Homo sapiens: one gene and its partners. The protein of the gene in region 2 interacts with the protein of the main gene of each other region in a pairwise test. Each region holds a gene or a part of one and is shown on either strand. Other genes may lie near its edges.

The links.
Region 1: the proteins of EPM2A (region 2) and TDG interact in a two-hybrid assay, tested with the Homo sapiens proteins (one study listed by BioGRID).
Region 3: the proteins of EPM2A (region 2) and HMGXB4 interact in a two-hybrid assay, tested with the Homo sapiens proteins (one study listed by BioGRID).

The regions. Positions count from the first base shown.
Region 1 is NC_000012.12:103,982,872-103,989,374, reverse strand, and holds the end of TDG (G/T mismatch-specific thymine DNA glycosylase), read right to left. Parts: coding exon 6,441-6,503; intron 6,240-6,440; coding exon 6,157-6,239; intron 6,081-6,156; coding exon 5,986-6,080; intron 4,627-5,985; coding exon 4,455-4,626; intron 3,773-4,454; coding exon 3,647-3,772; intron 2,428-3,646; coding exon 2,285-2,427; 3' UTR 501-2,284; downstream 1-500. UniProt on the Homo sapiens protein: DNA glycosylase that plays a key role in active DNA demethylation: specifically recognizes and binds 5-formylcytosine (5fC) and 5-carboxylcytosine (5caC) in the context of CpG sites and mediates their excision through base-excision repair (BER) to install an unmethylated cytosine.
Region 2 is NC_000006.12:145,732,038-145,740,423, reverse strand, and holds the start of EPM2A (laforin), read left to right. Parts: upstream 1-4,903; 5' UTR 4,904-4,925; coding exon 4,926-5,226; intron 5,227-5,503; exon of another isoform or gene 5,504-5,555; intron 5,556-8,386. UniProt on the Homo sapiens protein: Plays an important role in preventing glycogen hyperphosphorylation and the formation of insoluble aggregates, via its activity as glycogen phosphatase, and by promoting the ubiquitination of proteins involved in glycogen metabolism via its interaction with the E3 ubiquitin ligase NHLRC1/malin.
Region 3 is NC_000022.11:35,260,493-35,267,492, reverse strand, and holds part of HMGXB4 (HMG domain-containing protein 4), read right to left. Parts: exon of another isoform or gene 5,968-7,000; intron 5,171-5,967; 5' UTR 5,103-5,170; coding exon 5,072-5,102; intron 4,416-5,071; coding exon 4,267-4,415; intron 3,698-4,266; coding exon 3,619-3,697; intron 3,512-3,618; exon of another isoform or gene 3,397-3,511; intron 2,846-3,396; coding exon 1,890-2,845; intron 1-1,889. UniProt on the Homo sapiens protein: Negatively regulates Wnt/beta-catenin signaling during development.

The DNA of each region.
Region 1 (6,503 bases), on a different chromosome or scaffold from region 2:
AAATGTGGAATTGTCCCTTTGTAGCCAACTATAACATTGTTCTTTATGAATATTACCTTTGATACATATGATCCACAATATAAAAACCAAAAACTACTGTGTGCAAATTATACCTTGGACCATATAGGCATTGATTAACTTCTTTAAGTACATGTGATAACTATGGAAATCAAGATTATGTGACTGAAAAACATAAAGGAAGAGACCCATCTAGATAACAGCAATCAACCTGCTTAATTCTGAATGACAATTATATCCACAAATTTTTAAAACTTCTACATGTATTTTTCACATGAAGATCTCCTTAACAGGTTGCCAACCTTTTCTTTTATAAAACTATTACATTTAAAATATGGACGTCTGAAAAATAAAATATTCATCATTTTTATGATTTTTATCATGTTACTATTCTACATGTTAAATATAATAGAAGGTAAACTGACCTCAGGTTTAAAGGGGAAAGAATACCACTCAGTCTTGCTATAGAAAAAGCCCGTAAGTTAAGGATAACAATTCTTAATATCTTTTATTGTAAAAGCCATCAGACTTTCAAATGAATTTTAAAATCTTTCAATATTATTTAATGAAAAAGTCTCACACTGTCATGTATAGGATATATCAACATTTACTACTCATCTGTCATGTTAGGAAAAACATCATTATTACACGCTTGGAAAATCCTCAAACCCATCTCTAGTGGATGTCCGTCATAATTTAAAGGGTATTTTCCCCATTCAAATAAAACAATCTCTTGTAAAGCTACAATAGTTATATACCAAAGCAATACCTAGTTACATGCTTTACACAGTCCCGTGAAAAAATAATTTAATTGCTCCTAATCCCTGATGCAAGGCACTTCAAAGCACCCGCACAAAACGTCCATGTAAACAGCAGTACAGTACATCATTTAAATAACATAAATGACTTTTACACAGCTTGACCTAGGAAAAAATAAAATCCATCATAGCCACAGCTAAAAAGCATGTTAAGATTCACAATAAGAATTTGTTTCTCTTATTATAAAGAGAAGAGCAATCATATAACCTCCTGGGGGTGGGGGAGACCTCATAAATATTTTATATTGATTGACAAAACAGCATGCTCCCTGGGTACGTATGAAATCAGAATATTCAGGAGTAACTGAGAGGATGCAAATAACATTTCTTAGTACCCAGCTTTAATATCTACCAGACCTGGTAGTCTGGATTATTTGTAGCACCATGGAAAACTCATTAGAAAATCACAAAGGTATACACCTCAACCTTTCCATGAGGTTCATTTAATTTATAGTAACAAACAGCAATGATGCAGATAAAGAATCTTTAAAATTATTGGCTTACTGGATTTACCTAGCAAGAAAAATTCTATATTACTTATTTTAGTACATCTCATGTACATAAAGCACCAGTTTAAATGAGAGTATCAAATATCTCCAGCATCTTTTTGCTTAGCCTAGAAGTTCATTTCTTATCACTTTCCATGGCACACTCTTAAAGCCAAGGAAGATAAAACTAGAATGGTTATAAATATGAATGGAGAAATTCAGTTCCTTCCCTATCATATTTACATGTCTCAAGTAAAACACAGATGAGTGGCAAAAGGTCTACTGCATTCTCTGGAACCTGCCACCCCAGAGTAGTTAATTGGCTACTAGAGGATTAACACACAGGGCTGAGCAGGTCAAAGCCAGGGCTCTGTCAGGTAAGGGCCAGTTTTTACTACTGAGCAACTCACAAACACCACTGGTAAAGCAAAGAGGTCTGAGTGTGCATATAGCTCAGGGAACCCTGAGTTTACCCTTAGTTACCACTAAAAACTAACAAATGAGACTCCACTGAGGCTTAACTTCATATACAAAAATCAACACCTTTGCCTCTTTGACAGTGGTAATTATTAGCATGCCCTTCTTAGGTATAAAAGGGATAATGGTATATCTAGGTTTATGCAGTTAAGAATCAACTATAAATATTCAGACTTGTATTTTAAAATTACAGATTAAAAGTGACTCCCAAAAGAAAATCAATTTCTTCATAAATGAAATATAGTATATAAAAAGCTGGAATGATAATTAATTCAAATACAAAAGCTAGTATACAAAAACCCTACTTTTTCTTCCAAACTACTTAGGTTCATACGGTTCACACTACCACACAACTGTTCTACATTACAATTACACCACTAGAGTAAAATACTAATAAAACACTTCAGTTAGCAAACTGAGGTTCTACTTGTTGACAACTGCATTAAAACTGCAGCATTTAAGCAGAGCTGAGAAGCACCATTCTTAAGCATGGCTTTCTTCTTCCTGTTCTTGTGTTCCACAGTGATTACTAAAGGAAGGAATTTGGTCTGTAAATGACTGGGTCATCCACTGCCCATTAGGAATGCCACTGAAAGCTGATTCTCCTCTTAACTCCACGCTCTCAACTGCCAGAAAAGAAAAACAAAGTTAGTTTATGCCATTTAGAAATATTTGCTTTTTTTAAAGTAGAGACTGGGTCTTACTCTATCGCCCAGGCTGGAATGCAGTGGCATGATCACAGCTCTTTGCAGCCTCAAACTCCTGGGCTTGAGTGATCCTCCCATCCTAGCCTCTCAAAGCACTGGGATTACAGGTGTGAGCCACCGTATCAGCTTATTTGAAGTTTTTTTTTTTCTTTTTGAGACGGTGTCTCATTCTGTCACCCAGGCTGGAGTCCAGTGGTGTGATTTCGGCTCACTACAGCCTCTGCCTCCCGGGATCGAGGAGAGGCATATATATTATATATAATGATACTCCTGCCTCAGCCTCCCAAGTAGCTAGGATTATACCTGCCACCATGCTAATTTTTGTATATTTTAGTAGAGATGGGGTTTCACCATGTTGGCCAGGCTGGTCTCGAACTCCTGACCTCAAATGATCCACCCACCTCAGCCTCTCAAACTGCTGGGATTACAGGCGTGAACCACCATGCCCGGCCTGGAAGTTTTAAATGATCAAAGTAGGAGATTTTAACAGTCTAGTGAAGGAGAATTATTATTAAAATAGTTAAGCAAGCTTCCGGAATACAACTGTTAAGTTTCTGTTCTTCAGATACAGGACTCATTTGTTATTAAAGGAGGAAAATGCAACTAGGATGGCCTAGAGTTCATGACTTAAAGAAAATGCACTGTAGGCCGGGTGCGGTGGCTCATGCCTGTAATCCCAGCACTTTTGGAGGCCAAGGTGGGCAGATCACGAGGTCAGGAGATCGAGACCAACCTGGCTAACACGGTGAAACCCTGTCTCTATTAAAAATACAAAAAAAATTAGCCAGGCATCGTGGCGGATGCCTGTAGTCCCAGCTACTCGGGAGGCTGAGGCAGGAGAATGGTGTGAACCCAGGAGGGGGAGCTTGCAGTGAGCCAAGATCGAGCCACTGCACTCTAGCCTGGGTGACACAGCGAGAATCTGTCTCAAAAACAAACAAACAAAAAAGAAAATGTACTGTAAAAGTCTGTGTAATTCAACGTGAAATAACCATCAATTTTTCACTATTAGTCACTAAATAAAATTTCATATTATCATTCCCATTCTTCAATAATTTACTCTCCTTCTATTAAAATTTTCCCCCCAATCCTGACCAAACCGTCTTTGAAAGGAATACACATGTGGAGGGAACCATACTTAGCCCATTTGAAGAGAAGCCACAAGGTTCACTGCTGCATGGATTTTCTCCGTAAGCACCACCATATGCTGCCTCATAACCTGGATCATATTTTTCTTCCTTAACAGCCATCTTCTTTGCATCCTCTGTGAGGAAGGTAAAAAGGATTTAAATCTGATTTTGTACAACAATTTTAAAAGTAGCTTTATTCAGAAATCATGAACAATTCTTTTTCTTGAATATTCATATACACTGAGATACATCTCTATTAATCTTTTAAACTTATAGCATGTACTAAATAAACACATAAGAACTGTAAAAACCGCTTACATTCAACTTTACGTAGGGTACAATATTTCTTACATCCCTCTGCTCTGGCACTCTGCAGGTGAATTATCTGCAGAAGTGCCAGAGTAGAGGGAAGACCTTGGTAAAAGGAGATTTTAACAGTGACTAATATTCATTATCAGAGCACTCTGGCTGCGAATATAATTGTTTTCTTTTTTCCTGCTTTTAAATCCATAAGATACTTTCTGTAATGTGTGTGTGTGTGTGTGTGTGTGTGTGTGTGTGTGTGTGTGTATGTGTCTATATATAGACACACACATATGTATACGCACACAAGTGTATACACACATATATGTATATAGACATACATACTTATGTGTATATATGTATATATACACATGTATATATACACGTGTGCATATATGTGCACACATATGTATATGTGTATATGTATATATGTATATGTGTATATATATGTAAGTATATATGTGTATATATACACACACAAAATGAATAAAAGGAATGAGGACAGTAACATACCTTGGGCAAGCTGTAGGTCAAATGTATATTGCACCTCTTGAACGTCCATATTTCGTTCAATGCCTTTCAACTGATCTCTTAAGTCCTTCAGTTTTATGTAGTAATGAACTTTGTCTTGGGCTCGAGGAAACTGAGCACATCTTGCACTGGATGATGGCATAACATAGCAGAGCTAGAATCACAACATTTTATAATTTCAGAAATCTTATAATTCTATTGAATTCACTCATTGAGATTAGAATATTTGTCTTTATTTGGGTTAATAACTTGATACTTAACTACATATAAATATATGTAAAAATCAATAAAAGTAGTTGCTTTTAAGGTTGAATTTGTAATACTGACTTATTACCAAGTCAGGAAGTGAAAAATAATGAGCCTCCGCCTAATGAGCTGCCTCCTGGGTTCAAGCGATTCTTCTGCCTCAGCCTCCTACGTAGCTGGGATTACAGCGCATGCCACCATGCCTGGCTAATTTTTGTATTTTTTAGTGGAGATGGGGTTTCACCATGTTGGCCAGGCTGGTCTCGAACTCCTAACCTCAGGTGATCCGCCTGCCTCGGCCTCCCAAAGTGCTGGGATTATAGGCATGAGCCACCACGCCCGGCCTCCAAATGGCATGTAACAGAGAATGACACAGTACTCTACAGGAATTTCTCTACAATTCACTACAGGTAGTGAATTTGTACCATTTTAACCAAGCAGACAAAGGTGGGCCTTTATTTAAGCAAAAACCAATGCTATAATAAAACTCATCAATTGCATATTTATAAGAAATTATGAACAAAAACAATTTTAAAGGAGAAATTTAAATATATTTAGGTGGCAGAAACATTTTTAGGTTTCCACAAAAACCTGGCAGCAAATTAGCTTCTCCATCAGTTAAGATGTTGTATATACAACATGTAAATCTGTGCACTGTGTTGTTCTTTAAAAGTTGTAAATAAAACCTAAAACTAAGAAGCAAAATTGGAACCAAATGCCTGCAGAAGCTCTGTAGAGAGGACAATTTGAAAAACACTGTTATTTCATGATGACTTTGTGTATAAGACAACAGTATTGAATGCCAGTTAGGTTGGCTGGAGGCTTGTCTGGGTTGTATTATTTATATGGCTCTAAAATGAAGTTGAGCTAAGATATATAAATGGGGCAACTGGTTTTCCTAATCAGGATCATGTCTGTGTTTCCATGTTTGTTTCACAACAGTACGAGGGCTAAACCATTTGAATTTGACAACTACATGCCATTAAATGTATTCTGAATGTAGTATATGAGCCAGTTCCTCTCAATATTTTCACTGAATAACAACATCAAGACATTTAGCTGACAAATGTTTTTCTTTCTAATAAACCCTAATAGTATTTGAATTAATTTACAACTATTAGTTAAAGCTGATGTATAGGTATTATTCAACAAAATACAGTGTAATTGTTTTGCATGGTATAAATCACAATGGATAGGACAAATAAGGAAATTATCTAGAAAAAAATTCACATTTAGCTGATTTACAAATTCAATTTTAGGGACTTACAGTTTCTGTGTCTGGAATCTTATGGGGCTGAAGCCCAAATTCCAAGTTCTTAACCTTTACTCCAAAAACTTCTTTACTAAAAATTTCATAAATACCTAAAATGAAATACAAACATATTTACATTGCCCATAATGTTAGCAAAGAAAAAAAAAATTTAAAAGTAAATCTTACATTTTCCATTAAACACTGCTATTCGTGGCTGATATTTCTGTAATTTCTGTACTAGAATACGTCCTCCTTCACGAAATTCTTTACTAAAATTGAATTAAAAAGTAGTCAAAAATATAAATATGACAATATTTATAATATGCTAAATTCAGACAGCTTTCAATGAAAGAGCATATTGTACATTTGTTGAGCTCAGCTTGAACTAGATACATATGATGTTCCTAGAATATTTGGGGCACCAGCATACTCAAGGTTCCAACCCATAAAAGCAAATGCTGTGTACTTACCTGGAGAGATCTTTGCTGCCGGGCGTGGTCCTTTCCACCATGTTGGTAAATCCAATACCATAC
Region 2 (8,386 bases):
TGAGGAACTTAAACAAATTTACAAGAAAAAACCAAACAACCCCATCAAAAAGTGGGTGAAGGATATGAACAGACACTTCTCAAAAGAAGACATTTATGCTGCCAACAAACATATGAAGAAAGCTTGTCATCACTGGTCATTAGAGAAATGCAAATCAAAACCACAATGAGATGCCATCTCATGCCAGTTAGAATGGCGATCATGAAAAAGTCAGGAAACAACAGATGCTGGAGATGATGTGAAGAAATAGGAATGTTTTTACACTGTTGGTGGGAATGTAAATTAGTTCAACTATTATGGAAGACAGTGTGGTGATTCCTTAAGGATCTAGAACCAGAAACACCCTCTGACCCAGCAATCCCATTACTGGGTATATACCCACAGGATTTTACATCATTCTACTATAAAGACACATACACACGTATGTTTATTGCAGCACCATTCACGGCAGCAAAGACTTGGAACCAACCCAAATGCCCATCAGTGATAGAATGGATAAAGAAAATGTGACACGTATACACCATGGAATACTATGCAGCCGTAAAAAAGGATGAGCTCATGTCCTTTGCAGAGATATGGATGAAGCTGGAAACCATCATTCTCAGCAAACTAACACAGGAACAGAAAACCAAACACTACATGTTCTCACTCATAAGTGGGAGCTGAACAATGAGAACACATGGACACAAGGAGGAACATCACACACCAGGGCCTATCGGGGGGTGGGGGCTAGAGGAGGGATAGCATTAGGAGAAATATGTAATGTAGATGATGGGTTGATGGGTGCAGCAAACCACTATGGCAGGTGTATACCTATGTAACAAACCTGCAAGTTCTGCACATGTATCCCAGAACTTAAAGTAGAATAATTTTTTTTAAAAAGTACTTATCAGGTTTGCCCTGCCAACAGTCTCCATTCTCTATTTAAGTGTAAATGAGTAAGCTCTGCTTTCAGCTAGCCTCTTTCCTTTTTCTCAAAGTCTTTGAAAGTTCCTTTGGGAGTTTCAAATCTTCCCTTCCAGCCACCATTCTTTTATTCCTAAGGGTTGAGTTATCATGCTCTCCACTCTGTTTGGGAAGGGTATTAACCAGCCTGCCATTCAAGTTACTCAGACCTAGGAGGATCTTTTTACAGCTGAAGGAAGCTCTAAACCAGTGTCTCTAATCTTGAGGTCCAGCCACCTGGCTTGGCACTCTACTTTCCCCAGGCAAAGTCATTTTAGGTCATTGCCTAGGAAAACCCAGGCTTGAATGACCCTGTTGAGTAGAGGTTTTCAAAGGAGAAGTGAAGGGGAGGAGGTGTAGATTTTACAATGATGGAGGTGTGTGACGGAAAGGGCAGGTCAATGTCTTCTGAAAGGGCATACGTTTCATTGTAATTTCATGCTTGGAGCATTCCTAAAAATTAATATTTTAATAATGTAAATTGTAAAGAAAGAAGAATGACAAAACAGGCCGGTGGTGATGCACTGAAGATGCAAAACTTCTCTACGGTGGTATGGATGGGAACTGGAATTATTGGAATCGACTGGAGACGAGATTTTTATATGTATCAAAAAAAGACATGAATTTTTACAACAGTTGAGGAATGTAGTGGGATTTTGGGGCAAAGCCTTAGTTTAGTTTATATCCTTCTATTGTTCTAGATTTCCAAAGGGGTTTCTAACCCATGGGAACCCCAACTTATGAGGTAGCCTAAGCCATACTTTTTCAATCCAGAAAAAAGTTAGCTGTAACATGCAAAAGTTTTTAAGCTGTATTCAAACTCTGTCTGAAAGGGATTTTTTTTTATTGCTACAAAATTGCATAGTATATGTGACACATTTAACTTTTAGATATGTTTTGTTGAGTAATAAACTAATACTTATAACAGTCCCTGAACTATGTGGATAAAATATGGTTTACATCAGTGAATGTGTATACACATATAAAATACTACAAGGAAAGATTTATGATAACTCACTGACTAGTGAAAGATTGCTTCAGAAAGCATAAATCTCCCAAGATCAAACTAATAGCTTTCCCTGAGGGGGCTTCAAAAGAATTTACATTTGAATTGGATCTTGAAACTCTATGTTTGAATTTATCACCCATTCCTCAGGAAAGTTTATAGTTATATATAAGATAGCATTATAAAAATGAAATTCAATGACAACAAATTGTTTTGGTCTTTTAAAAATTATTATCATAATTATGTTACTCTACTGGACTGATTCTTGCTCTAAATTTAGCTTGTCCCCATAGCATCAAGAATCTGACCTCAAATGGATTTCATAAATAATCCCTTTTAATAAATACCATGATTCTTCGAAATGTAAAAAGAAATCTCATATGGAGGACCCAACAAGGAAAAAGATCTAAAACTAACACAATTTAAAAACTGGTAAAATTCTTCACCTTGGCTTCTTAAATCTGTTTCTATTGCCAACACATAGGTATAAAAAGGCATACAAATTATAATTTCCAAGAACCTGCAGCCAAATCCTCTCCAAATGCTAAGATATATGTGTCTTTACAGAGTCATTGATCCGTTTAGACTGCCACTCATGATTCATCTGTTCTTTAATTCCTAAGGATGAAGTTAGTTACAAGAAATAATGATAGGAATTTATTTTTTTTAAATTAAGAGCTGACAGAGAATAACATTTAAATATGCTAGAATTTATATGCATTCTGAAACAGATTTTCCTTATCAGAATTTATATCTGTATCTATATCTATAAGCTGAATGCACCCCTTTTAGCCCCTGGCTCTGCCCCTTCCTTGCTGTGGGCTGTTCATTGGACCCTTTTGTGCTGAAGTATCCTCACATCTAAAAATGGGGGTAACAATTGTAGTTACCTTATAGGATTGGTGAGAGACTTAAATAAGATAATATGAGTACGAAAACCATGTGCCTGGCCCATAATATAGGCTCAATGGATATTATCATGGTTAATACTTATACATCCAAATGACTGACCGTCAAAATATGATCAAGGCCTTGATATATGTCCCTTAAGCCCTATTTTGGTCTTGTTCTCCTTTCCAGTTGCATTTTACTTACTACACAGTGCAGCTATCCAATTTATACCTTATTTAAATCCTTGCCATAAAATAAGCTATTACAAATTTTGTTTAGGGGCTTAAGAGGGTTACTTCTTCCAATGGTTAAAATTATTTCAACCTCTTTATGATGAAAGAAGAGTAAAGGAAACAATGTCCGTTGAGCAAAGATATTGTTTAATTTTTCCGCTACTGTTTCTTCTACAGAATGGGCAGAACTCACTCTGGAAGAGCTGGTGGGAATAATGCCATTTGGGAAGCACACAACATAGGCAGCACAGTGGAGCACAAGAAAGTCCGGAGCTGTTAGCTCCCAGGTCCTGAAGGAATGAGAACTTTCACCGGAGTCTGGATTCCACTGTAGACAAAATCCTCTCTGCATCGCCAAATGACTCTTATTTTCCTAAACTTACTCTAAGAATATCTTTTAACAGCAATTTGAATAAACCGACTCACATGCCACTGTGATTTAATGTGTGATTTGCTGCCGAATCAGCTGTGTTTGGCCAGCCCTTCTGTCTTCACATTTTTCATAGTGTTTATCCTTAAGCTTAGCAACCAACCAAACTTCGAGTGGAATATCAACATTCAAGAGTAAAATGTATTATTAGTTTTCTAATTGTTCCACAAGAGATTGAGTTTGTGTAGTTTACATTTTTGCACTTTCTGTTTTACTTATATCCTCAACGCATGAAATTTTGGCCTGTTCCCCTTTACTATTCACAAACTTCCAAACACTGGTAAAAATGCCTTTGTGTGTCTTTAATTCACGTAACAGATTTGTGTTATGTTAAATGTTAGTGAATATATAAACCTAAGAATACAAGGATAATTTTGTTAAAGAATCAAAAAGTATCAGGACATTCGTTTGTCTTATGGCAGAGACAAATTGAAGTTCCCCACCAAGATATACGTATTTTGGATTTGGGCCAGACAGCTAAAAAACCTGTTTCAACTTAAAACCCAAAAAGGTTTTAAGTTGAAAAAATAATGCTGACTTTTGCTGAAAGTAAATTTTAAACAAAGGTTTTTTTTTTTAATTTACTCCATTAAAAATGCATACATTTGGACAGAGCGAGACTCTGTCTCAAAAAAAAAAAAAAAAGCATACATTTGTAGTCACAGAATTAGTTTTTGTTTTGACCTTGAAAAGGACTTGAAAGTATTTACTCCAAACTTACTTTACACATACTAAAAATATAGTTTTTGAAAAAAGAAAGTTGATGTGGCTTTTCAGACAAGGGAATGGTAGGTAATGTTTTGCATCAGCTCCGGGTCTTGGGTGATCTCCACCAATCAGAGATCCTTCAGAGCTCGTAGGGTCTAGAAAGATCATTATTTTACACCCTCATTTTACAGACAAAGAACCTGAGACCTGCTAGAGTAAGTGACTTGGTTAAGATAGGGAGCGCTCCAGAGACCAGGTCCAAGATCTTCCCCCGTTTCACAATTAGAAGGCGGCTGTCTAGAGGTCATTCCCTTCCTTATGATCCTCATAAAGTTAATTTCCAGTCTCTTGGAGAGAGAACTGGACGATCGCCTGGCTTAGAAGTTTTCCTCCCTCCCCGAACCCCGTTTTCTCTTCCATTTCTTCCGGTCGCGTGTCCCCAGCGCCCACAGGTGGAAATCAACCGCCCGCGGGGTTGCGGGGCACAAAGAGGCAGCTAGCGGCTCCGCTGACCCCTTCCCGCCGGCCTGGACGAAGTCTGGGCTCGGGAGCCGCGTGATGCATCCCAAAGAAGGCGCAGAACAGCACGTGTTCTCCCCGGTGCCCGGGGCTCCCACACCACCGCCCAATCGCTGCGGCCGCCTAGTGCTCGGGCCGCGCCTGCCGGCCGCGGGGACTCCGGGCCCGGGTATTCGCGCCGCCGCCGCCCGCCATGCGCTTCCGCTTTGGGGTGGTGGTGCCACCCGCCGTGGCCGGCGCCCGGCCGGAGCTGCTGGTGGTGGGGTCGCGGCCCGAGCTGGGGCGTTGGGAGCCGCGCGGTGCCGTCCGCCTGAGGCCGGCCGGCACCGCGGCGGGCGACGGGGCCCTGGCCCTGCAGGAGCCGGGCCTGTGGCTCGGGGAGGTGGAGCTGGCGGCCGAGGAGGCGGCGCAGGACGGGGCGGAGCCGGGCCGCGTGGACACGTTCTGGTACAAGTTCCTGAAGCGGGAGCCGGGAGGAGAGCTCTCCTGGGAAGGTATTGCCAGCAGACGCCTGCCCCCGGCGCAGAGCGGGAGCTCCGGCCCGCACCCCCAACCGGGGCCTCGGCCTCGGGCAGGCCCCGCAGGCCCCGGCGGCGCGCGTCCCGGGCTTTTTGCCCGCGTCCCTGCGCACTCCCCGGGCGACCTGGGCTGACCCTGCTCTGCCGGCCACGCTGTCGCCGCCAGCCGCGCCTCCGGCTTCCTACTGATTCCCTAGACCCGTATAGCGCTCCCGGCCGCCTTCCCGCCCACTCTGTTGCCTGCCCCTCTGACCTGGTTTCCGCACATCCAGTCCTCAGCTTCTTTCCAACCGCGCCTGCGTCACGGGCCAGTGCCCTTCGTCTCCCGCCCGGGGCTCCCTTCGCCCTCCGAGTGCCCCTCGACCTCCGAGTCCCCCCCTTCGCGGGTCCCTTGGCTGCCCGGCCGCGCGCCGCTGATGGCTTCAACAGCCCAACTCCGCCTTGGTTGGGTTTTGTGTCCTCATTTTCCTGCTCTAATTCACTAAAAAAAACCCAAAACGATCCAACCAACGAAACTAGCGTTTTCGCTAATCCTAGACAGCAATGTGCTACTTAGATTTTTTTCATAGATATTGAGAATGAACTAATGGAAAAACGTTGAATATTTCCCTTTTTGGATTTTTTTTTCTTTTTTAATCCCAGATATATGACAATTGAGACATGACCTGATTTCTTAAAATACTAAAACAATACATGCTGGTTGTAAAATAATAATAAAGAAATGTACATAGTGAAAACTTACAGTGTTTCCTCCACACATCTTAAGCACACTGCTTGTACACATTTATGTATGTGATATATGCATATACTTTTTTTTTTTACAAAAATTGTATAGTAATTCTGAATTTTTGCTTTTCTTGCCTAACAATATGTTAGGGACATCTTTCACTGTCACTACACGTAGATATGTATTTTACATGTAGATGTATATTTTAAATGGCAACAAATTATTCTGCATCTACCAATGTGCATTTAGGTTCTTTTCAGTTTTCCTCTGTCGTAAACAGTAGTGGCTTAATTGAAATTCCTTTTACAGATATCTTTGAACATTCGGGAGTGTTTCTGCAGAGTGGATTCAAAGAAGTGAAATTATTAGGTCAAAATGCAGTCATTTTTTTTAACACTTCATTAAAGACTGCTAAATTATGCCCTAAAAGGGTGATTATCTAATGTCGGCTCCCGCCAACAGTGTCTGAATTGAGACAGCTCCTTTCTTTAAAGGAAATGTGCAAGGTTGTAGACTGGAGTGGGTGTGACTCAATAGTTGAAGTCAATGAAATGAATGTCTCTTTAGAAGTTTATATGAAAAAAAAAATGGGCCATTTAGCCTGTAATGATGTAGAAACAAAGAATCAGTAAAGAAGATTAGAGTGGAATGTGTTTATATATTATCCTTGTTCTCCTTCTCTACCTCACTGGGCTTATGGTCTGGTAGCATTTATTGGTCTGTTATTTTACCATGACAGAATTGAAAGATACCCTCTTCAGTTTATCCTTTCTTTACAGAGTATTACTATTTTTCATAGTATTGTAGAATTATTTTTTAAAATAATATCTGATAATTGTAATAAAAATGGAAATGGTGTGAAACAAAGATCTTCCCTTTCCCTAGTTATTTAGCTTTTCTGATAGTCCTCCCTATGCCGTTAATAGTTTGCTTATGTTGCTATTTCTTAAGGTACCACAAACTTTTGTTTTTAATTTTTCTAATAGTTACCATATAAGTTATATATAATTTTAAAAGTTAAAATTAGGCAATAGATATTGACACCTACTGGATGCTCATAAAATTAACCATCACACTTGTTATGAAATATGAGGAATTTAGCTCAAGTTCACTCTCTGTCTTCCCTGCTGATTTTTTTTTACTATTATTTTCAGTTTTTTTGATAAATATTTTTCTTTACTATCCAAGCAGGAATTATTTTCAGTTTTGTATTAAAAATTGACTGTTGACTTTCTAGGAAGTTACTCCTATAAGAGAGGATAAGAAAAATATTACAATTTCTTCCTGTCTCACTTTGGTTTATTATGACTTTTACATTATCAAGTTTTATATAATTTATATTCTATTTTCTAATTGTTACAGTGCCTTCTTGTTTAAGGTAAATAGACTGATTCTAAACATCGTAAATTAACAGAGAGCTTTATGAGAAGCAGGGTAGCCAAGTGTTTAAGAGCAAGGATTCTGGAGCCAGATTGCCTGGGCTCACCAACCAGTGTGGGATTTGAGGCGTGTCACCTCAGCTCACAATGAAAGGACCAAGCTGCCTAATAAATGAACTGTATTTTGTAGAATAGGATATATATTAAGAACTTACAAGAGGACATATGGTAAATGTTAAATAAGGGCTAGTTATTATTTTTTACTATGATTATTGGGAAACCACGTTGTGCAATTAGACTCGTAAACAAGGAAATAAAATTTTGTGACATGAAAACTGTACCACTGCAAGGAAAAATTCTCTTTTCTTCACTATAAATCATGTTCAGATTTTACTTAAAATGGTACTAGAATTTGTTTTACTTCATATTTGGACTGTAATGTTCTTCTACAACTTATTTAAAAATTTGTTATTAATTTTTTTAACAGAAGAGTTAAACCAGTTCTCACAATGTCCTAGCTTAATTGCACTACTTGATGAATGCATATTGCTTATTTCTTGGAAATAGAATTTTTTCCTTGAAGAATTAGGATTCCTGTTCTAATTTTCACTTTTCACTAATATATGGCTTTCTGATATATATATATATATATATATGTGTGTGTGTGTTTCTGATATATGTATCAGTTTTATATAAAATATTGACCGTTGACTTTCTGTTACATAGAAAGTTCATTCTCATAATCCTATTATGCAGGAAGTTACCCCTATATGAGAGGATAAGAAAAATAGCTTACTTACACATTCCTCTCCCTTCCTTACTTTGGCGCGCACACACACACACACACACACACACACACACACACAAGTCTTAGCTGTAAACCTGAGACTTTAAAGAAAACAATCGAACTCCTATGTTAGTTGCACTGTTTTAAATGGTATATCTTCCTCTTTCTTAAAAACCTTAATCATTTCTTTGGAAAATTTTCAAGAAATGGTAAAATCAGAGAGAAAATATCTGAGCCCTCAAA
Region 3 (7,000 bases), on a different chromosome or scaffold from region 2:
TCTGCCTCCATGCGTCCACTTCCACTGAAACCTTCTCCTTCTTCAAGCTTTCCCTGACCCTGTGCTCCGACATTCAGCACTGGATGATTAGTCCATGGCATTATCACGTCACTAGACTGGAAATTCTTAGGATAAACAGAATCTTATAAAGAACACATAGTGTTTATTTCATAAAGCAATTTTCCAAATAAACAACTGAATAAAACCTGACTTAGTATTGGAATATCCAGGTCTTTATGTTCACACTGATTCCTGGCTCAGAGGTACAGCTTTGTGGTTTTTTTGAGATAAACAGATGTGTGTGTGTATATATATATAATATATTATTTTATATATATTATATATACACACACACATACTGATAAACAGATATAGATCTACAGATAGATATAAACAGATAGATATAAGCAGACTTTCTTAAAAGGCACCCTTTATAGTGGAGAAATAACTTCCACCTCAGAGATCAAACTAAATTCCCATTCCTAGATTCTTTTCTTTTTTCTTTTGAGACAGGGAGCCTCACTCTGCTGTCCAGGCTGAAGTTGCAGTGGCAAGATTATAGCTCACTGTAGCCTCCACCTCTTGGGCTTAAGCAATCCTCTCACCTCAATCTCCTGAGTAGCTGGGACTATAGATGTGCACCCCCACACCAGGCAAATTTTTGTATTTTTTTGTAGAGACTGGGTTTCGCTATGTTGCCCAGGCCGGTCCCGAACTCTTGGGCTCAAGGGATCCACCTGCCTCAGCCTCCCAAAGTGCTGGGATTACAGGCATGAGCCACCACACCCAGCCCCAGATTCTTAATACATTTGATTTTCTCGTTCTTAGTCGCTTTTCTTCCAGATTTTATCTGACATTGCATTTTGCAGAACTATAAATAAAAAAAGAAACTTTTAATGACATAGTTATGAGACCCTAAAGTTCACTGCCAGAAACTGTTATGAGGAAAGAAATCAAACCAAGGTGACTGATTTATCATTCCTATCTCCCTAATCAACAGTGAGCTCCCTAAAGTCAACAACTATGTCCTGCTTGTGTTTTTACTTCCTGGTACTATCTACAGCATTGAGCTTGGCATACAGCAAGCACTCAGACAGTAAAAGAACATATATTCGACACTAAAAAGAATACCAGAAAGTAGCCAACACCAGCTGGTGGAAAGTCATTAGCTATTCTGTTAACTTGACTGCTCATTGTTCTACCAATTTTGATAGTCTGTTTTTAAAAATGAACTCAAAGAACACCTTTTGACATCTCCCAACTGCCCTAAGCAGACAGTGATGCTAAGTGAAAGAAATTGGGTTTAGCTCCTTCTGTGAATTCTAAGAACTAGCTGGAAAAAGCCACAGTGTAACTAAACCTATTCCTGGCACAATGGGAGAATAACTCTATTAAGAAACCCTAGGCCGGGCATGGTGGCTCATGCCTGTAATCCTAGCACTTTGGGAGGCTGAGGTGGGTGGATCACTTGAGGTCAGGAGTTTGAGACCAGCCTGGCCAACATGGTGAAACCTCGTCTCTATTAAAAATACAAAAAAAAAAAAAAAAAATTAGTCGGGTGTGGTGGCGGGTGCCTGTAATTTCAGCTACTTGGGAGGGTGAGGCTTGAACCTGGGAGGAGGAGGTTGCAGTGAGCCCAGACTGCACCACTGCACTCCAGCCTGGGCGACAGAGCGAGACTCCATCTCAAAAAAAAAAAAAAAGATTGCTTCTATATCAGACAGACTGGGCTACTGGTAATATTTTATACTTTATATCATTCCAACATATCCCCCAAACATGCTTAATTCCCAGTGGTTTACCTCAACTGCTTAACTTAAAAGTCCACTGACTACCCAGGAAGAACCTGCTTAATCTCTTACCCCCACCACACTTAAAAGATGCTTTACCTTTTCTCCTCTCTCTCTCTCTTTGTCCTTCTCTTCTTTTTTCTTTTTTTTTTCACTATGCCCATCTGTGTGGAGGCCAGGAAGTGGCAGGGGAGGTGCTGCTGCTCCAGCGTATGGGATGCTGGGAGGAGGGCCAGATGTCACTGTGACCTCTCCCACTGGCACGGCAGAAAGTCCTAAACTTCTCTTGGACTTGGAGTGTCGCTTCTCTTTATGCTTCTCCTTGTCTTTCTTCTTTTTGCTCTTCTTTGACTTCTTTTTCTTCTTGATTTCTCGGTAAGAATCATCTATCACTAACTCCCCAGCCTCTAGTTCCCCACCAGAGGATGAGTCTGATTCTACCAGAATAGGTTCAAGCCCTGAAAGATCAAGGTTAGCACTGTGGGACTCTGCGAACTGGGAGGCGTCAGACCCACAGCCTTCAGGGCCAGGAGATGAATGTGCGTCTGAGGATGACTTGTGCTTTTTCCGGGCTGTTTTCAGAAAGCTCTGTAACTCATGTCCTAGGAGTAAAGCACCCTGCTCATCCCGAGCTGATTTCTTTGAGGATTTTTTCACAGTCGCTTGTTGGGAGGGATATTGAAAAGACTCCTCATCAACAGAGCTGCTTCCCTTCTCCTTTGGTGACAGAATAAGTTTCATTTTTAAACCATCAGGCTCCCGAAGGGTCAGTGTCTCTGTGTTCACATAGAGAGGTTTCATTTTTTTCGATTTGTGGGAGCCACCATCCTCTAGGGGTAGTTCCCCACTGCTTCCACTGACTTTCTTCCTGTGGTGCTCCTTTTTACTCTCCGAATGGCTTGAAGAGCCAGAGGATTTCTCCCCAGTCTTTTTGGAGGGCTTGGAGCCTGCTGCCAGTGGGGAAGTGATAGCTTTCAACAGGTCCATAGCTGTATCAGTAGACTGTGGGCTGGACTTTTTCTTTTTCTTCTGTGACGATTCCAAAGACGAAATATCTAGAAATAATCAAGAGAAGTACTGTCAATATGATGGGAAGCAACTTCTAACAAGTTTCCTCTCTCATCAAAAGCACCTAGCTAACATGAGAAAGAGGCTAACAGGAATGATTTGAAGGGAGACCCTTTAACTGATTCCTAACATTGAGAAATGATGCCCTTGTGCTTCTTGGCTTGGTAGAGTCTGCCTCTGACCCTGGACACAGTTCTTGCCACTAAAGTTGTTTCTCTTCATTGAGTCTTCAGAAGCAACCAAAGAGCACATACCCAGAAGAACTGACTATAGCTGTGGGATTATGGGAAGTTAACAATTCAGATTGCAGACAGAGTATCATTTGTTTCTGTGTTCAGGACAAACCCATTCTGGTGAAAGTTGAGTCTCATCAGCTATGTGCATAACATAGCTAAGAAAACTGGTTCTGTGAGTGGATATATACTGGTTGAGAAGTGACCCACAGGTGCAGGCCAGAGGACTACGTATGGCAAAAGGGATGCTAGATAACAATGGGCACAAGATAAGTGGATGATTGGGGGGAGAAGGAACCTGGTACCTGGTGTATCACAAATGCAGACTGTTCTTCTATGCTGAATCCTCCAAAATACCAGCCCTCCACCTCTCTCCTCCTTCACACTGGTTTATCGGCACTCAGAACAAGAACCACTGTCCTGTTAAATAGGCCACTGAGTCAGCAACATCTGGATCCCTTTCCCCTACCCCGACTCCAAGAACCAGCGATGTGTTTATCCCACCTGTTGCCCATTCCCATCCTCACCTCCATAGTAGTAATCATCAGAGGAGTGCTTCCTCTTCTTCTTGTGTGTGTCCGTCCCCAAGAAGTAAAGTTCACTATCCTATAATTAAAGAAGAATTGACCAATAATAAGATGATGAGGCAAATGCAGTTTGTAACCACTCTTGTCTTTGATGATTTTTGATTTTGGGAAACAAAGCACAAGAAATAATAAAAATAGATGTGCATAACGTTTTATTTTTCTTTTCTCAAGTTATTAAAAAATACTTCCTTCTTCAAATATTAGGAAATATGGTAAGAAGTAGTTTAAGACTTTCCTGGCGCAGTGGCCCAGGCCTGTAATCCCAGCACTTTGGGAGGCGGAGGCAGGTGAATCATTTGAGGTCAGGAGTTTGAGACCTGCCTGGCCAACATGGTGAAACCCTGTCTCTGATAAAATACAAAAATTGGCCAGGCGTGGTGGCCCGCGCCTGTAATTCCAGCTACTCGGGAGGCTGAGGCAAGAGAAACGCTTGAACCTGGGAGTCGAAGGTTGCAGTGAGCAGAGATTGTGCCATTGCATTCAAGCCTGGGCCATGAGAGAAAAAAAAAAAAAACAAAAAAAAACTCTGCATCACCAAAAAAAAATGAGTAGTTTAAGACTTTCCTAATTTAAATTTTCAGGACTTACCTTCAACTTCTTCTTGGAAGAATTCCTGACCTGAGCAGCAATTTCTTCCTCTTCCCTTAAAAAATCTTTGTAAGAACGTTTTTTCTCTCGTTGGCTTCGGCCAGCTGCAAGTCCTATGTCCTCAAAGGTATGATCACCATCAAAACAATCTGAGAAGCACAGGTTTATTTGGGAAAGGAAATGAGAAAGTCAAGTAAGTAATGACCAAATCGTCATGCAGGTAATGCAACAGTTCCTCTATTTCCAAATTAAAACAATGTTTCAATCAAGTCCACTGAAATACAGGGCTAGACCCAGGGGAACAGAATATTTCTTGATGACCTAGCTGCAAATACAAGAATCAAACCTGAAGAAACAATGTTTCCATGCTATGCAAAGGCCCCATGTGCAACCTCAGATATGGTTTCTGAGTTGTGATTTGGTAGGAGGACACAGACTTGCAGACGAAAGGCTGAAAAGAATAAGGATTCATGTGCTGTGCTGCTCTCTGTGGGAGTCCAGGATGTGATTCCTATCCCCAGACTCCTGCACACTGGAGCTGGCAAGGACCAAGAGTGCTGCAGGGGATCACCCCAATAAACTAAGAGACTCATATTTCAGACTCTCGTGTTGGAACCCCTGTCCTGGTTTTCGTTTCCATGGGCCCAGTCTGGGGATGGCGTGGAGGCTGAGTGTCATAACAGTGCTCTGGACCATCACTTGGGAGTCCAGGCTGTGGTGCCCAGTCCTGGTCTCTATATCCATGGGCTGCAAGGATTGAAGAGGATACCCCCTTTGGAATGCTTCTCAGATTATGGGGTCATACCTTCTTTCTTCACGGAGTCATCATAAGCCATGGTGGTCCTGCAGGGCCTTTGAGAATGTGTCACTGTGTCCAGGCTCCTTCCCGTCTACAGGACCAGGTCTGAGAAACAAAGAAGGAAAACCCTCCTGTAATGCGAAATCACTGAGGAGAAGCAACCTTCCAGATGGAAATGCGCAGTGATCCAAGGGCTGACTGGAAGGGCAGCAAGAAATAAAAAGTGTCTTGTCACCTCCTCATTCTCTTTGTAAATACAGTGGGGTTGATACTGCAGGAAGTATACTAGGCTTAATTAGATTTCAGTCATGAATTAAAGTTGTCATTTGGGGAAGTATATAAAATACCTCCAATACAAAAAATATTTTCAAAATTAATGAGAATTTCTAAAATGCCAACAGGACTGACAACACTGAGACAGGGTAGAAACCAACATTAAGTTAGAGGGATAGGTTCAATCATGGTTACAACATACACAAGTAAAGCAAGATGCAGAGAAGACAGATCACATCAAACATTTGAAGACCACAAAATCCTACCAACTGGATTGGTGAAGCGGTAAAATCTATTGCATTGTAATTTAAACAGAAATGATTAACTGTATAGGGATGTTAAATATCTTTAGAGCACAATGTCTTTTGCATTTTTTGGGGGGGGCGACATGAATTTGTTCAAATTTATGTAACTGTAAAAGCAGGTACACTCCTTACATCAGTTGACCATATGACAGCTGTCACCACCACCAAGGCTTTCTTAAAGGCTAGGTGAAAATAGGGAGACATTTATCATTTGTCCACTGGTCATAAAACTTTTATGATTATTAAGACCTTCACTAATAAGAATTGCTATAATTTAAATGTTCTAGATATTGTATTTTTTATTGAATTTTTACAACCTTTTTTGGCATTTGAGTTTATATGTCCATTTTGACTTTGAAGATGACAATGCTATAAAATGCACTGTAAGGTAAAAGGATTTTTTTTTTTTTTTTTGAGATAGAGTCTTGCTCTGTTGCCCAGGCTGGAGTGCAGTGGCACGATATTGGTTCACTGCAACCTCCGCCTCCCGGGTTCAAGCGATTCTCCTGCCTCAGCCTCCCGAGTAGCTGAGATTACAGGCGCCTGCCACCGAGCCTGGCTAATTTTTGTATTTTTAGTAGAGATGGGTTTTCACTATCTTGGCCAGGCTGGTCTTGAACTCTTGACCTCGTGATCCACCCACCTCGGCCTCCCAAAGTGCTGGGATTACAGGCGTGAGCCACCGCGCCCAGCCAAGGTAAAGTTCTTTAAATGTTTTAAGAACAAGCAATTTCATAAGTCCTTCAGGAATTTTAAAATTACATATTAAATATTTTGGAAATGTTCTCATCCAATTAAGTCAGATGCTTACAAAGTTAATCTAATTGATCATTTATTTAAATTTAATTTTACCTTCATTATTATAAGGGTATTTAGAAATACTGAAGGACACTTAAATGACACATTACTAATTCCTTCAGGTAGCTGTGGACAATACTGAAGCATGGAACTTTTGTGAAAGAAAAGATGAATTTGATTAACAAGGGAGACTTTCATAAGAGTTACATTAAAAAGACTTATTTGCACAATCAGATAAAATACAATGTACATACAGGTAGGCCTAAATGGGAAAATGAAGCATTACCAAGAATGATTTATTAGATTAAGAAAAGAAACATAAAAAAGCATTTCTTCACTTCTCTGAGAAGTGAAATAAAGAATGGATTTGGTCAAAGTAAGAGAAGCTAGAGTAATGAAACTATATTAACTGGATTGTTTTAAAGTTCAATTGGAGAACTGCCTGTTCGAAGGGCCTTTTCATAGGAAACGAAGGGGACATAAGGTCAGGCCTCAGATAAAAATGTGAGGAGGCAAGATACATAATGTAGCCAGTTTTCCATGTTCCAGCATTTAAGGA